Linked DNA regions of Homo sapiens: region 1 is linked to region 2. A link means that fine-mapping ties the variant in region 2 to the expression of a gene that starts in the linked region. Tissue or cell type: transverse colon. Region 2 holds a variant in brackets; the other region holds the start of a gene. All regions are shown on one strand. Distances are between the middles of the regions.

The links. PIP is the estimated chance that this variant, and not a neighbour inherited with it, causes the effect.
Region 1: it holds the start of CEL, and the variant in region 2 is fine-mapped to the expression of CEL in transverse colon (CEDAR, PIP 0.95).

What each region holds. Positions count from the first base shown.
Region 1 is chr9:133,058,888-133,066,977 of GRCh38, reverse strand. It overlaps CEL (carboxyl ester lipase), which reads right to left and starts at 4,997. Exons shown (of 11, transcript NM_001807.6): 1 at 4,910-4,997; 2 at 2,424-2,574; 3 at 2,216-2,338; 4 at 1,741-1,938; 5 at 318-448; 6 at 33-140. The coding sequence starts at 4,975. LOC124902325 reads left to right here and starts at 5,646. Exons shown (of 2, transcript XM_047424377.1): 1 at 5,646-6,229. The coding sequence starts at 5,646. RefSeq lists enhancers at 5,282-6,034, 6,035-6,786.
Region 2 is chr9:133,003,126-133,011,227 of GRCh38, reverse strand. No RefSeq gene overlaps it. Among named protein-coding and RNA genes, the nearest start is that of SNORD141A, 13 kb to the left of the region's middle. RefSeq lists enhancers at 5,383-6,254, 6,732-7,026, 6,901-7,045, 7,129-8,002 and cis regulatory regions at 6,965-6,982, 6,450-7,401. The variant A/C (reference allele first, on the strand shown) is at 3,971.

The DNA.
Region 1 (8,090 bases), 56 kb before region 2:
CACCCCGCCCAGCCCTGCCCTCCTCCGTTTACCTTTTTGGCCCAGAAGAGTGGGTTTTTCTGGATGACCCAGGGACTCAGGGCCACGCCGCTCTGGCTGATGGCTCGCCGGATGAGGCCCTTGTTGTAGGGGGAGAGGGTCTACGGGACCCAGAAATCCCGTCACCAAGGCCGCTCCCCACTCTGCCCACCCCACGCTGGGACAAGGACACCCCAGCACCACAGCCCCAGCTCCACGCTCCTCCTCCCACCCTCCCCTTCCCGTTTGAGCTTCCTCTCAACCTGTGGGGCAGGCCCTCCCCACAGGGATCCCGAGACCTGCAGAGAGACGCTGGCACCTCCAGCAGACTCCCCGAAGAGCGTGATGTTGTTGGGGTCCCCCCCGAAGGCCGCGATATTCCTCTTCACCCAAGCAATGGCCATGTGCTGATCCCGAAGGCCATAGTTACCTGGGGGCAGGGCAGGGGAGGGGGTGCTAGAGACCAGTGGCCCAGGCCTGGCCTCCAGGAGGGGAGATCAGCATAGGTGGGGTGGAAATGCCCTCAACAGAGTTGGGGCCATGGCAGAGCCCCAGTTGGCAAATGGTGGGTCCCTAAGAAGCTGGGTCGGGTAGGGTGCTGGAGGGGGTGGGTCCCCAGGAGACTAGGTCACGTTGGTTGCTGGAGTGGGTGGGTCCCCAGGAGGCTGAGTCGGGTGCGGTGCTGTATGGGGTGGGTCCCCAGGAGGTTGGGTTGGTGTGGTGCTGGAGGGGGTGGTGTTTGTCGGGGGCAGGATGGTCAGGCCCATGCACCTCTCCTGCCCCTGCCCCAGTCCCTCCTGTCTGTGTCCTGCCACTTCTGTGTCCACAGCTGTCTCTGCCTCAAGGTATTGTTCTCTGTCTCTCACTCAGCTCTGCTCTCCTGGTTTCTCTCTGAGCCTCAGCCTGTCTGCCTGTCTGTCTGTCCCACAGCCTCTTATTTTTGAGATGGGGCCTCACTCTGTCGCCCAGGCTGGAGTGCAGTGGCACGACCACGGCTCACTGCAGCTTTGAACCCCTGGGCTCAAGCGATCCTTCCACCTCTGCCTCCCAGGTAGCTGAGGACAGAGGCATGAGATACCACGCCTGGCTATTTTTTTTTTTTTTTTTTTTTTTGAGACAGAGTTTTACTCTTGTTCTCCAGGCTGGAGTGCAGTGGCATGATCTCGGCTCACCGCAACCTCCGCCTCCTGAGTTCAAGCGATTCTCCTGCCTCAGCCTCCCGAGTAGCTGGGATTACAGGCAAGCGCCACCACGCCTGGCTAATTTTGTATTTTTAGTAGAGAAGAGGTTTCTCCATTTTAGTCAGGCTGGTCTCAAACTCCTGACCTCAGGTGATCTACCCACCTTGGGCTCCCAACGTGCTGGGATTACAGGGGTGAGCCGCCGCGCCCAGTCCCCAGCTAATTTTTAATTTTTGTGTAGAGATGGGGGTCTCCCAGTGATTTTCAGGCTGGTCTTGAACTTCTGCGCTCAAGTGACCCACCTGTGTGGGCCTCCTAAAGTGCTGGGATTACAGGCGTGAGCCATCTCTCCCGGCCTCTGCAGCATCTTTTATTTTACTACAGCTACCAAGGGCCTCCTGCATCTCATGATTCTACTCCAGCTTCCGGGTCTTTCTGTGAACCGCCACTGGTTGTTTGGGGTGAGGGGTGCTGAGGAAAATCTCCCTGCTGGGCTCAGCATGCTGGTCGCCCCACCTCAGGGCCGAAGGCACCCACGCACCTGGCAGATTGGCGTCCCCAGTGCTGAGGAACCCAAGGGGGCCGACACGGTAGTTGAAGGTGACCACGATGACGTTTCCGCGTGTGGCGATCTCCTCGCCGTCATACAGGTAGTTGTTGAGGAAGTTGGCCCCATGGCCGGACCCCATGAGGAAGGCGCCTCCATAGATCCAGATCATAACGGGCAGGTCCCGGGAGACTGAGATGGGGGAGCGGCTGGTGACCCCAGACGCCCCGCCTGGCCCTGTCTCCAGCCGGTCCCCTGTCCCTGTGCAGCAGGTGCCTGGGGCCAAGACAGGGAGGTGCTCCAAGGCGCTGCCCTGCCCCAGGCTGGGCAACGGCAGTGGGCGCTCCCCTCCCCGCCTCTGTGGGATTTCATGGAAGTTCAGCTTTGCAGCCCCCAGACTCAAGCCAGGAGTAGACCCGGGGCAGTGGCTGCATGGGAGGGTCCCTTGGGGAGTAGAGGGGAGGCAGACCTTGCTTCCTGCCCTGGGGCACCCAAATGTTGAGGTACAGGCAGTCTTCATCCCCGTAGGTGCTGTCCTGGGTGATGGTGGCCTGCAGGCATCTCTTCTTGAAGTTCTTGGCCTTCAGGGTCCCTGCAGGTGGCAGGAGTTGGCATGAGGAAGGCAGCCGCCCTCACCCGCCCCGCCGCAGGGCCAGTCCGGCACCACCCACTCCCACCTTGCCAGCCAGGATGTGGCTGAGGATTTTCCAGGGCCTTGGTGGGAGCTGCGAAGGGGATGCCCTTGAAGATGTCCACAGAGTCACCCAGGAGGCCGAGCTTCTTATTGACGCCTTCCACGAACCCACCTTCTGTGTACACGGCGCCCAGCTGCGAGGGAGACACGGGCAGGGTCAGGGGGGCTCAAGCCCCATCGGCCTGAATCCGGAGGGGGCAAGGCAAGCCGACTCCGCGTGCCCAGAGGCAAAGACAGCTTCAAAGCAGGACAGCTCTGCACAGGAGACCCAGGCAGCACCCCCTGCCCTGCAATGCTCAGGGCTTTAGGATTCCTGTTCCTCTCCTTATCCCTGGGGGTGTCCTGCTCCCAGAATCTTAGAGGAAACTGGTTCAACCAGTGTTCCCACTAGGGAAGCCGGCCAAGAGGTGGGATGGAGGTTTGGGTTCTGGCTATGGCCGCCCAGCTTTGACTCCGATCCTCAGTTTCCCCATGTGGAAGACGAGCAACAGCCGTGTCTCCTGTCGGCCTGTTTGCCATCACATGGGAGGCCTGTCCAGCTCCCGGGAGGAGTGTACCCAATGCTCAGTGTACCCGGGATGTTTCACACCAACCTTCCTCCTTTCTGAGGGGTGGGGCCTGCTTTTCCCTCCTCCCATCTCCCTGCACAGGGCCTAGCTGGCTGGGCACAAAGTCGATGGCCCCATGCCCAAGTCCCCACAGTTCCTGAGCCCCCTGCTGGTAAAGAACCCCCTAGGGACCACACCTCCCACCCCCGCCACGCTTCCCTGTGCCATGAAAATGGCCTCTGTGCACCAAGCTGTCCACCCCCACGAGGGGCCTGGAGGTTGGTGCTCATCCACCCTCTGTCCCTGACGGAACTGAGGCTGGGCAGCTTTTGGGCTTGAAGTCACCCTGTTGAGAAGCAGCTGTCTGCCCCAGTGCCACCTCCTGTCCATCTTGGGCAGCAGCTCCCTCTTCCCGTGGTGCATGGTGGGACCAGGTCATTGCTTGCTGGCTGTCACCTGTGCCAGGTTCCAGGTGGGGAAGGGCAGGGTGGCCCTACACCCCCAGGCCCAGCCAGGGTCCCAGCAGCCCTCTGAAGTCTAGGGTGATGGGCCCCCTGTCACACTGGTGTGGGAGAGTGCGGCGGTTGGAACTGGAGGAAAGGAACCAGAAGCAACACATGCAGGCATCGTGGGCATCCCCTGCGAGGCATCTGTGTCTCCTTGTGCCAGTGGCGTGATCCCTGTGCAATTGAGACTGGCCAGAGGGCCTCAGGGTGGGGAAATGGGGAGGGGTCGTGATGACCTGCCGAAGGCCTCTCAGCACCCCAAGAAGAGCTCGCCCAAGAAGAAGGTGACCTCTCCTTTGAGTCAGGAGCCCAGGACCACTGCCCAAACCTCCCGGTCCCAGGGCCAGGGAGTGTGGAGAGCAGGCAGCAGAGGTGGAGACAGGAGTCCCCAGGGCCTGAGACACCGCAGGCGGCAGAACAGCGTGGTTGGGATCTGGGGTCCCCTGTGTGACTCCTGCTGGGGGCAGGGACTGGGCCGGGCACCGACACCGGCTTCCTGTGGGGCTTGGGGTTTCTGTGGCTTCTCCTTCACAGGCAGAGAGGGTAGAATTTATGGATGCCTCGAGAGAGCTCCTGCCTGCCGGCTCTCTTTCTGGAGGGACCCGGACCCGGGTGTGGAGTAGCTCGGCTTTCAGCTTCCTGCACAGGAATAGGAGGCAGCAGCTGTGCCATGCTGGGCAAACTGCCTGCCTGCTTCTCTCCACCCGTCTGCCTGCTCTCCACACTCCCTGCCCCTGGGCCCGTTTCCCCTTCTGTAAAATGGGAACAACAGAGAGGTGGAATCACCAGGATTAGCAAATGTAAATTCAAGAGGCCCAGTTACATTTGAATTTCAGGTAAACAGTGAATTGTTTTTTAGTATGTTTCATTTTTTTCTTTTTCTATTTTTTGAGACAGAGTCTCGCCCTGTCACCCAGGCTGGAGTGCAGTAGCGTGATCTCAGCTCACCGCAATCTCCACCTCCCAGCTTCAAGCGGTTCTCCTGCCTCAGCCTCCCGAGTAGCTGGGATTACAGGCACCCACCACCACGCCCGATTAATATTTGTATTTTTAGTAGAGACGGGGTTTCACCATGTTGGCCAGGCTGGTCTCCAACTCCTGACCTCAAGTGATCCACCCACCTCGGCCTCCCAAACTGGTGGGATTGCAGGTGTGAGCCACTGCGCCCGGCCCATAGAAATTTGTTTCAAATATTGCATGGGACATACTTACACAGCAGTTCTTGGCAGTTTATCTGAAATTCAAATGGAATTGGGCATCCTGTGTTCTACCTGGCACCTGTCCCCATAGAAATGAGCGTGAGTGCCCGGGATCTGCTGCGGGGCTGTGCTGGGCTCTTTCTCAGCCTGGCCCGAAGTTTCCAGATCTGATTGAGCGAGAGAGCAGCAGGACCTGCCCCTCTGCTGGGCTCTTACCTTCGCGGCACTCGCCACTGCCCAGCAGCAGGTGAGGCCCAACACAACCAGTTGCAGGCGCCCCATGGTGAGCATCAGCCTCTGGGTGGCCCTCCCCCTGGGCCTCGGGTATTTATGGAGCTGGATCCAAGGTCACATGCTTGTTCATGAGCTCTCAGGCACTCCCTCCCCTCTACCCCCTCAGGTGCAGGGAGATCCAGTTTTCCCCAAACCCACAGTGCACCTGTGCAGGTTACCACTTACCTGGGAGCAGAGGCAGGTGGCAAGGTGGCGGGTGGTAAGGGGGATGGTGGGGCCGGGCAGGGTGCACAGTGCCCTGCCTTCTGGTTTGTTCACAGGGCTTGGTGTCACTGTCAGAGAAAAGGGCATACTTTGTCTCCATGTCTCCATGCCCTGCTTGTCCCCTAGGTCCCCAAAGGGGCTTCAGAGGGGACCGAGCACGTGACTTCTGGGACAGAAAGGGCAGCATGCTGCAGGCCCTCCACTCATGTGGCTGACCTTATCTGTACGAGCTTTTCCTGGGGCCCGTGGAGCGGGTAGTCCAAGCTGGGTGCGAATCCCAGAGCAGCACAAGGCAGTCCCACTCAAGGGTGTGGAAGTGTCACCATCCAGCCTGATGTGTCCTGGGAGGGAGGACTAGAGGCTCAGGGGGTGTGGGTGGGGGGGTGCGGAGGCATCTAGCCCAACCATGTAGGTTTCCCTGTGGAAACAAAGGGCCCAGCCGAGGCCCTGGGGCATGCCCAGGCAGAGTGACAGAAGGGGAGGGAAAGAGGCCAGTGGGAGGGAAGGGAGAAGGTCGTGTGAGGTTGTGGAGGAGGAGGCGACTCGTATTTTCTGTGAACAGGTATTAATCCTGGAGCCAGGAAAGGCTCTGAGAAGTGAAAGAACACCACGAACAAAGTCTTCAGATGGGGCCTTTAAGCTCAGCCAGTGTGAGGTCACCCTCACCGAGACACTCAGTGGCAGCTCCAGCCACCGCACAGCCCTCTGCAGTGATGGGAACAGGGTGAGGGCAGCCAGAGCCTTCCCACCCAACAGTCCCCCAGGAGACACTGGGGCCTGTGCTTCCCACACCAACCACACTCCCGTTCTGCCACCCCTGCGGCCGGTGCCAGGGACCGAGTGGACCTGCAGAGCCACGTCTGTCCCTCTGTCTGTCGACCACAGCCGGTGCCAGCAATTCAGGAGGCCTAGTGGGCGAGGGAGGCTGGGGAAAGGACTGGAGGGTGGGAGGAGGAGCTCGGCCACAGGAAATAAGGGGCCTGCAGGTGGCTGGGGCGCCCCAGGGCAAAGGCATTTGCCTCAGACCTTTGCTGCAGTGTCATTTACAGTGGCTAAGGAGGAAAGGGGAGGGCAGAGGGGAGGCAGCAGGGAGAGGAAGGAGGTGGGGGAGGGCTGGGGCAGGGCAGAGGGAAAGGAAGGCCCCAGTTTATATCTATGTACATTTTTAGAGCAGCTTTAGGTTCACAGCAAAATTAGAGGAAGATTACAGAGATTTCCCGTATGTCCTCGCCCCACTCCAGTCTCCCCCGTTATCAACATCCCCCACCAGGGGGTACAGCTGTTAACACCTGATGAATCCACATTGACATGTCATTATCACCCGGAGTCCACAGAGGTTTTTTGTTTGTTTGTTTTTTTGAGACAGGGTCTCTGTCACCCAGGCTAGAGTGCAGTGGCACAATCATAGCTCACTGCAGTCTTGAACTCCTGGGTTCGAGGGATCCTCCTGCTTTAGCCTCTGAAGTAGCTGGGATTACAGGCGTGCGCCATCACACCCAGCCGATTTTTGTATTTTTAGTAGAGACTGGGTTTCACCATGTTGGCCAGGCTGGTCTCAAACTCCTGAGCTCAAGTGATCTGCCCGCCTCAGCCTCCCAAAGTGCTGGGATTACAGGCATGAGCCACCGTGCCCAGCCTCATACTTTATTTTTTTAAAATTGGCAAAAAAAAAAAAAAAAAACTTATTTCCTGGCTCTGTCTCTTCCAAAGCCCTAGCAGTAACGAAATCCCAGGAGCAAGCCCCACCCCTGGTGACCAGACTGGGGTCTCTAAACACCATATTCACACCGACTGAGTGCACCCTGGGGAGATGGTTGGGCCGGGTCCGCAACAGGAAATGCCAGGGAGGGGCTGGAGCCTGCAGCATCGTGGTAGCTGTAAGTAAGGAAGGTGCCCAAGACCCAAGGCTTGTGTCAAAGGACTACAGAGGTCAACCTGAGGCCGCCTCTGGGCAAAGATAGACAAGTTGGGCATGAAAAAGCAAGCCTGCAATTGACAGACGTGAGAGTTCACCAGGCAGCCCAGGAAACACGCTCTCCACCCCCTCCTGCCCTGTCACTGGCCCTTGCCAGGGCACTAACTCATTGTTCTGAAAACTGTTAGAGGTGATAACAGGCATTTTCCCTTCTTTTCTGTGAAAATAGTATTTCAGGGTAATCAAACAGACGATGAGGAAGATTCCTTTATAGGATTCCAGCTACTAAATGCAGAGGGAACGATATAATTCAAAAAAATCACCATTTTGCACCCTTAAGGAAGTAGTAGGTCCAGGCAATTATCAACGGCTATTCAAAAGCCATTAAATAGGCTGGACGCAGTGGCTCACACCTGTAATCCCAGTACTTTGGAAGGCTGAGGCGGGAGGATCCCTTGAGCCCAGCCTGGACAACATTAGTGAGACCTCATCTCTACAAAAATTCAAAAATTATCTGGGCATGGCGGTACACAACCTGTAGTTCCAGCTACTCAGGAGGCTGAGGTGGAAGGATCACCCGAGCCCAGGAGGTTGAGGCTGCAGTGAGCCCTGATTGCATCACTGCACTCCAACCTGGGTGACAAAGCAAGACCATCTCAAAAAAAAAAAAAAGACCCACAAATGAAACAAAAAACCACAGAAACCCAAAAACCGTTAGATAAAAGACCAACACATCAGGCTGACAACACCTAAACCTGCTGGTCAATCCTAGTAAGCAGACCTCCCGTGCATGCAGACTGACGCAGCCTAGGAAGAGACCTTGAACCCGAATCTGGCTGAGCCTCCACCTGTCCCCAGGAAATACAGGGGAGAGAGGAGCAGGTTCAGCACCACACAGAAGCAACCAGCCAATCCAGAACAGGGCCATTCTCTGACAACTGACTGTTTCTTCAACAAATACTCGGCACGCACACAGGTTGGGAG
Region 2 (8,102 bases):
CCACCACGCCTGGCTAATGGTTGTATTTTTAGTAGAGATGAGGTTTCACCATGTTGGCCAGGCTGGTGTCAAACTCCTGACCTCAGGTGATCCACCCTCCTTGGCCTCCCAAAGTGCTGGGATTACAGGTGTGAGCCACCACACCCAGCCACTGTATTCTTATATTTTAAGTCTATCTCTTATAGGCAGCATGTAGTTGTTTCTCTTTTCTAAGATCCTGTGTCTTTTAGCTGGAATATTTAATCTTTTTATATTTAATGTAATACTAATATATTTGTGTTTAAAGCTTTCACATTACTGTTTTCTATTTGTTCTATCTGTTCTATATGGTTTTCCTTCCTTTTCCTTCTTTAATACTAATTATATTTTGTTATTTTATTTTTCCTCTAATAAATAGTTGTATAAACTTTTACTGGTTACCCTGGGGATTACAATATGAATCCTTGATCTGGTAAAGTCAAATACAAATTAGTACTTCTACTACTTCCATAACAATGTAAAGACACATTTGAATGCTTCTTTGCCTCTTGCCTTTTGTTCTGTTGTTATCACGTCATACATGTATGTGTGTATTTATTATTACTTTTTCCTTTCTTTTTTTTTTTTTTTTTGAGACAAGGTCTTGCTCTGTCACCTGGGCTGGAGTGCAGTAGCACTCACTGCAGCCTCGACCTCCTGGTCTCAAGCCTTGAGCCTTCGACCTCCCACCTCAGCTTCCCGAGTAGCTGAGACTACAGGTACGTGTCACCACACTTGGCCATTTTATTTTTTTTTATTTTTTGTAGAGATGGGGTCTCACTATGTTGCCCAGGCTGGTCTTGAACTTCTGGCCTCCAGTGATCCTACAACCTTGGCTTCCCAAAGTGCTGAGATTACAGGTGTGAGCTACCACACCCAGCATGTGTTATACTTTTAAATCAGCTTTATTGAGGTATAATTTATATGCAATAAAATACACCCAGTTTAAGTATATAGTTTGATGACTTTACAACTATATAAATGTAGTCACCATGTCAATCATGACACAGAATATTTCAATCACCCCCAAAGAATTCCCAGGTTCCTTTTTAGTGAGTCACCTCACCAATGGGGCAGACAGGGGACCTGGGGGGCTCTGGAGGGTGAGTGGGTTCTTTGCATCACCTATTGAACATCAAAACTCCTAGAATGGACAAGAATGGGTAGGGCTTAGGTTATGGGACTACCTGCTAGAGGGTGACCAAGGAAGCATCTAAGCCCAGGACTTACTCCAACAGGCAGGGGCCACACAGGGAACTGTCCGTTCTCTAAGACCACACCCACATGGGGAAATTTATTCACAGGGGAGATGGGAGAACCCTGGACAGTCAAAGGGGGAGACAAAAAAAACAAATGATGCTTAAACTGAACTCACCCTGTATCTTCCCAGATCTCTTCCCATGACTCCCTCCTGCAGGATTCTCTTTCTCAGGAATGGCAGCACCGGAAACGTGGGTGTCATCCCGGATTCCCCACTTGCCCCTCATCCATCTGCTGCCACATCAGTCCACTCTATCTCTTAAATTCATCAGAAATCCATCTTCTCCACCCATCCATCCATCACCCTGGTTCAACTCACACCACTGGGAACAGCCTCCACTTCGCCACTGGGAACAGCCTTCTAAGGCATCTCCCACATCCACTTACACTTCTCTATTAAGAGGATGGGTAACTATATGCATGTGTTTCAAAATTCAAAGGACACAAAAAGGCACTCAGTGAAAAGTCTCCCTCCCACTCCTTTCCCCCAGACACTGAGATCACCTTTTCTCTGGAGGTGATCAATGTCAACGGTTTCTTGTTTATCTCTCTGGAGACAATCTACAATGTTATAAACAAAATTATATATATATATATATATTCTCCATCCCCTTTTTAAAAAGCAAACAACTAACTCACAAATGGGTTTTCTTATTCAACTTCCCCTGTAATAAATAGTTGCACATGCTTTTACTGGCTTCCCCAGAGATTATAATATGACTCCTTCATCTATTACAGCCAACTATCAATTCGTTGACCACCAATGGTGCCTTGGTATACATTCCCTTCCTACCTTCCTTTTTTCACTTGGCAATATATCATGGAAATTACTCTCTGTCAATTCAGAAAGTGCTTCCTCATTTCTTTGAACAGATGGACAGTATTCCCCTGTGTGGCTGGACCATGATTTATTTACGCAACCCTCTTTAATGGGTACTTAGGTTGTTTCCAACCTTTCCCAAAAACAAATGCTTGTAGTGAATCACTGTAGTGTGTACACATGGGCTAGGCATCTGTAAGGTATTGTTGGGCCAAAGGGTGTGTGCCTCTGTGATTTAGTTAGACATTACTACATTGTTCCCTATTGGAGCCACAACCATTTCTGTCTCTCCCCCCAGGAGACCTGCCTGTGTTGGGACCACAGGGGCCTCAGAGGACTCAGGCCACCCTCCAGCGGTGGCCCACCTTGGTTCCCTAGACCCGTGAGCGGTTCCATCTTGAGGGGGCTGCCTGGCTGGTCTTTGCAACCCCTGCCCCCTGAGTTGTAGGGCTCCAGTCACCTTGCAGGGCTCCTGACTTCCCTGGCCACCAGGACACCAGGGATGCTTCTCCCCCGAAAATGCAAGTCGATCCCACTGCTCTGGGGCAGAGACCCAAAGCTTTACCAGAGACTGTGGGAGTGGGTCCCGCTGCTCCCACCCCTGTCTTCTCCTAACCACTCCCACTTTGCCCCACCCCCAAATTCCTGGCCCTGCGATGCCAGGGCCTCCCCAGGACCTCCATGCCTTTCCTTCCTGCTCCCCTTTTGGTTCTGGGTGACCTCTGGGAAGGGGTTTCTGCCCCCACTTGAAGAGGCCCCTCCGTGCAGCACACCTACTGCCCCCATCCCTGAGCAGGGTCGGGGGTGTCTCTTTGGACCCCGCTTCCCCAGCGCCTGGCATGAAATCAATGCTGCTGAGTGAGCGAACCCATAAATGGAGGAGAGAACAGAGGACCGAGCCAGGGAGTCCCATGCGTGCCCCGCAGTCCCCTCCCCTGGCCACTGGCAGTGCCCCCCCACCCCTAGGTCCAGGAAGAACTCAAGATGCTGGAAGGAAAGAATCACTAAGTCATTCAAGAGTTTCAGCCAGGGCCACAACCCCACCTGTGGCTAGGAAGAGTGGGGAAAGGGGAGAGGGAGGAGGAGAAGGAAAGGGAGATAGGGAGGAGGAGAAGGAAAGGGAGATGGGGAGAAGAGGAGGGAGAGAGAGGAGGGGAGGGAAGAGGTGGGGAGGAAGAGTGAGGGAAGAGGAGGAAAGGAACAGGAGGAGGGAGGTGGAGAGGGAGGGAAGGGCCCCGGGTCTGGCATTCTCCAAAGTGCTTCCCTACTCCAGGCTCATCCCTTCCTGACCCCTCCACGCCGGCCCAGAGCACCACACTGGGAACTTGCTGTCTGTTTTAGGGGATCTGTAGAGGAGAGTGGGCCACAGGTCCATCCCTGACCCCTTGATTCCTTGGGAAGGGTTTACCTTGGGATTAAAAAGCCTTGGGGAAGAGGTCCTTTAAAGTTCAGTCAAACCTTGGGCAAATGCGTGCCTCAGTTTCCATGTCTGTAAAACAGGGAAAAGTAGCTCCTGCTATTCTATGGGAAGTGCTCAGCTAGTGCCAGCCCAGGTCACAGCAAGTGCTAGGTACAGTTGGATGGTGCCATCTGGGATGGGTCCTCCAAGCCAATCAGATCAGATCAGATTGAGAGCTCATCCTCCCAGGAGATGGTGAGTGCTGTCCTTCAGCCAAACCTCTAGATCCAGGAAGCCGTTCTCAGACAGGTCCACAGTCCACACAGTGTCAGGTAGGACTGACAGTGGGCCTGAACTGTAATTCATGGTTCTAGGCAAAAGACTCGAAAGCACCCATTCACACGTATACTTGCACCCTGTTATCCAGGCCTAGGCACTCCATGCATTGGCCCCTTTGGGTGGGTAGACCCTTC[A/C]GTTTGCTTGCCTATCCATCCACCCATTGTCCATCCATCCACCCATCCACCATCCATCCACCCAACCACCATCCATCCATCCATCCATCCATCCACCTATCATCCATCCACCCACCCATCCATCCATCCATCCATCTGTCCATCCATCCGTCCATCCGTCCATCCATCCATCCATCCATCCATGCATCCATCCATCCATCCATCCACCCATCTGTTCATCCATTCATCCATCCACACATCCACCATCCATCCATCCATCCATCCAACCATCCATCCATCCATCCATCCATCCATCCACCCATCTGTTCATCCATCCATCCATCCACACATCCACCATCCATCCATCCACCCATCCATCCATCTATCCATGCTTCCATCCATCCATCCAACCATCCATCCATCCATCATTCATCCATCCATCCACTCACCCAACCATCCATCTGTCCATCTGACAAAAAGCATTTCCTTAATGAGTACTGGGGAAGCAATGGAGAATTTCATAGAACGTGTCACACAATGACACAAATAGCTATTTCATGACAATTATGATCAACATCAGAGGGCAGAATTTCTGGGGGATTTGAGAGTCTATAACTGGCAAGGGGAGGTTTTCTTGTGGGGTGCATGTGGGTTGGGTTTGGGATGACGAAGATAAAGAATTGGTGAAGTGAGGAAACTGCCTTCCAAGTGGAGGGAACAGCATTCCCAGAGCCTCAGAGGCAGGCAAAGCCAGTCTGGAAGGAGGAAGGAGAGAATGTCGCTGGGATTCTGGTGCTGTTGCTCAGACACCCACCCCTAGGGAGAAGTGGCTCTCCCTGCAGATCTCCCACAACCCTGAAGGTGCCTCCCTGCTCCAGCCCAGAGCAGGGCTCCCTGGCCCGTCTGCCATCAGTTGAGGGGGCATTACCTGCTCTGTTTCTCTGCCTGGACTATGCATGAGCTGTTTAGGGCTGGGCTCTGGTTTTCAAGTCTTCATTCAGCAGAGACCACTGTGCACATGGGCTTTTTTTTTTTGGCGGGGGCGGGGGGAGGGGTTACTAAAATATACTTAATAAATTTTACCTTCTTAACTATTTCTAAGTGTACAGTTCAGTGGCATTGGGTACATTCACATTGTTGTGCAATCATCACCACCAGCCAACACCAGAACTTTTCCCAAACTGAAGCTCTGTACCCATTAGACACTAACTCCCCACTCCCCTCCCCCAGATCCTGCCAGCCACCATTCTACTTTCGATGAATTTGACTACTCTAGGGACCTCATATAAGTGGAATCATCCTGTGCTTGTGCTTTTGTGACTGGCCTGTTTCACTCAGCATGATGTCCTCAAGGTCCACGTGTGGCATGTGTCAGAGCTCCATTCCCTTTGATGGCCAAGTCATATTTCCTAGCATGGACAGGCCCCGTTTTGTTTACCCATCATCTGTGGATGGACACTTGGGGTGCCCACTTTTTGGCTGCTGGGGACGATGCTGCTTTGAAGCCCACCAGCTTTTGGTACCTCTTTGGTGGAGTACCTTCGGCCAACTACACACCCACTGAGCAGTTTGTATTTTGCAAAATTTTATAGTGAAGGGACTGCAGACGTCGTCTTGACCAACTCTCTTCCTTTTGCAGCTGAGTGGAACCAAGTCCACTGGCTGCGGCGCTTCCTCTTCGCCCAGCTCTCTGCACGGTGGCCAAGCTCTGGGCCCTTAGCTCCTGGCAGGACCATATGTCCCCTGATCGGACTTTTGTGACACCGGGGCGCCCCACCTCATGCCTGCAGTGGTGCAACCCACACTACTCTAGAAAGTTTATGTGCCTGCTGCACACCCTCCTTTCCCTAGCCCACCGCAGCCATCCCATGGTGTTGTGGGAAATGACCTCAGAGAGCTTCCCCAGACAATGGAGAGTCTTTAGAATGCTGGGCAGCTGGACCCTTGGCCCTGGATACCAAGAGCTATGCAGGCACTTATCCCAAAGCCACCCCCATTCCAGCCAGATGCTGGTCCCCAACCCTGGGAAACAGAGACCAGGACCTGTGCCACTCCTGCTTGGCATGCACCTGGACTCCCCAGGACAGCCCTGCGGGTGGGTTTTCTTATCTCACTTTACAGACAGCATACGGGGCTAAAAAGTAGAGAAATGACTTGCTTAGAGCACCAGGGCCCAGCACAGAGTTCAGCTTCAAAGCCATCATTTCATTGTCCTCCACCAGCAGAGGAAGCCTAGTGACCGCCCCTTCCTACCCCCAGCCTCATCCCCACAATCACAGGGTCCCCTGCTGACAAGTGGCTCCCAGGGCAGGTCTCCCAGCCTAGCAGATCTCCTGGCTTGGAGACCCAGGATTTCTCCTGGCAAGGTCTCTAGGGCAGATGAGGCTGAGCTGCCTTCAAGTCCACCCAGGCCTCCCCAGAGGAGGCCCCCCTCCCAGGAATGGCATCCCAGCTCCTCCCTCCTCTGGGCTGGCTTCATGGGGGCAGACACCTTTACTTCTGCAACACAGCTGGGCTGCAGTCGTACAAGGGATCATGGTTTGCAGGCTGAGCTGGCAGAGGGACACCCCAGGGTGAAGGGCATTTGTGGGGCATCCTGTCATTGAACTTTCTCAGAAGGCCCTGCCCTTCTCTTTTTCCCTCCAAGGCAGTTGTTGGGATGGCAACATCAATGCTGGCCGTGGCACTTCCTCTTTGGCCAGCTCTGCACAGTGGCCGAGCTGTGGGCCCTCAGCTCCTGGCAGGGCCCTGTGTCCCCTGACCAGACTTCCGTGAGGCCAGGCCTCCCCACCCCACACCTGCAGCAGTGCAGCCCATGCTGCTCTAGGAGGTTTATCTGCCAGAGAGGCTTTGAGGGTGGGGAATGAGACCCTTATCTCCCTGCCAGGGGCCTGCCCTACAGTTAGGGCTTTGTAATCTGACATTGTGATTTTTCACTCTTGTTTTTCCCCTCATGGAGGGAAGATTTGCTGAATCACCCAGGGTGAGGTGGTTGGAGGAGGAGGGGGGCACCAGCTGGGGGGCAGTGATAAGTCTCAGGCCGGGCTGAGGGGCGCTGGGGAGCCACCGGGAGGAAACCCTTAACCGTGACGGTTTCCAGCTAAGATTGTAGGCTTCTAAAGAGCTGCCTTGGGGAGGCTGAGCTCAGGGATCCTGAACCTTCCTTCCTGAGGAGTGCAGAGGAGGGCCGGGGGTGCCAGGCAAGCCCCGTAGACATCCCACGAGCCAGCAGGGATGGGAAGGCAGGGACCGTGACCGTGGCAATGACCAAAGATGCATGTGGCTGGCTGCCAAGCCCCAACAGGATAGCCCCCAGGACCCCACTAGGTCACCCTTGCTTTGCACACTGGCCTCCTGAAGCCCTGAGAAGGCGCTGGCTAGAGCACTGCTCCCTAACAGGTTGGGCAAGAGCTGGGGGCAGGGGAGGCCTCTTGTCTCCCCCAGGGCTTTGTGCCCCGCTGTTTTCTTGGCTTGGGGCAGCCCTCTGCACTTCCAACAGATCAAATTCTTTTTGTCTTGCAAATGTCGACTTCCCTCATTAGACTTCCCTTAACCCCAGGGCTGGGCTTAGTAACCCCCTTGGGCCTCCAGACCCCCCACAGCGTCTCCTCTCCTGGGTCTTGCCAAGGCCCTGCCCAGAGTGGACGCCCAGCAAATACTTGTTGAACAGACTTTGTACCCTGCGAGAAGTGGTCTTCTATTGGCACTAAGTCTGGGGTCTACAAAGTGGGAAGAAATCCCCAGAGGAGCTGGGCTGGCCCCCAGGAATGCCCTCTGTTGCAGAGAGGACCCAGCTGCTGGGAGTGGTAGACCCCAGCCTGACCTCCAGGTGCCCGACCCTCAGCCTCTGCTGGGGCTGGCCACACAGTAGAGACAGCTGTCCACCAGTGATCTCATGGTAGTGTACAGAGATGGGGTCGTGCTGGGCGCAGGGGGAGGGCTTGGAGCAGAAAGGCCAGGCCGGACGGTGCCTGAGGCTTCCCCAGGATGCTCTCTACGCGACTGACTTCTGATTCCCCTCAGAGTCCGGTGGGCAACCGCAGCTCCGGGGAAGATGGGTGATTGACACCCCTGAGTCAGTGGCCACATCCCTTGCTGCTCCCAAAAGGGGCTCCTGGGGCAGGAAGAGCTGCCCACGGTGGTCGCTTCGCTC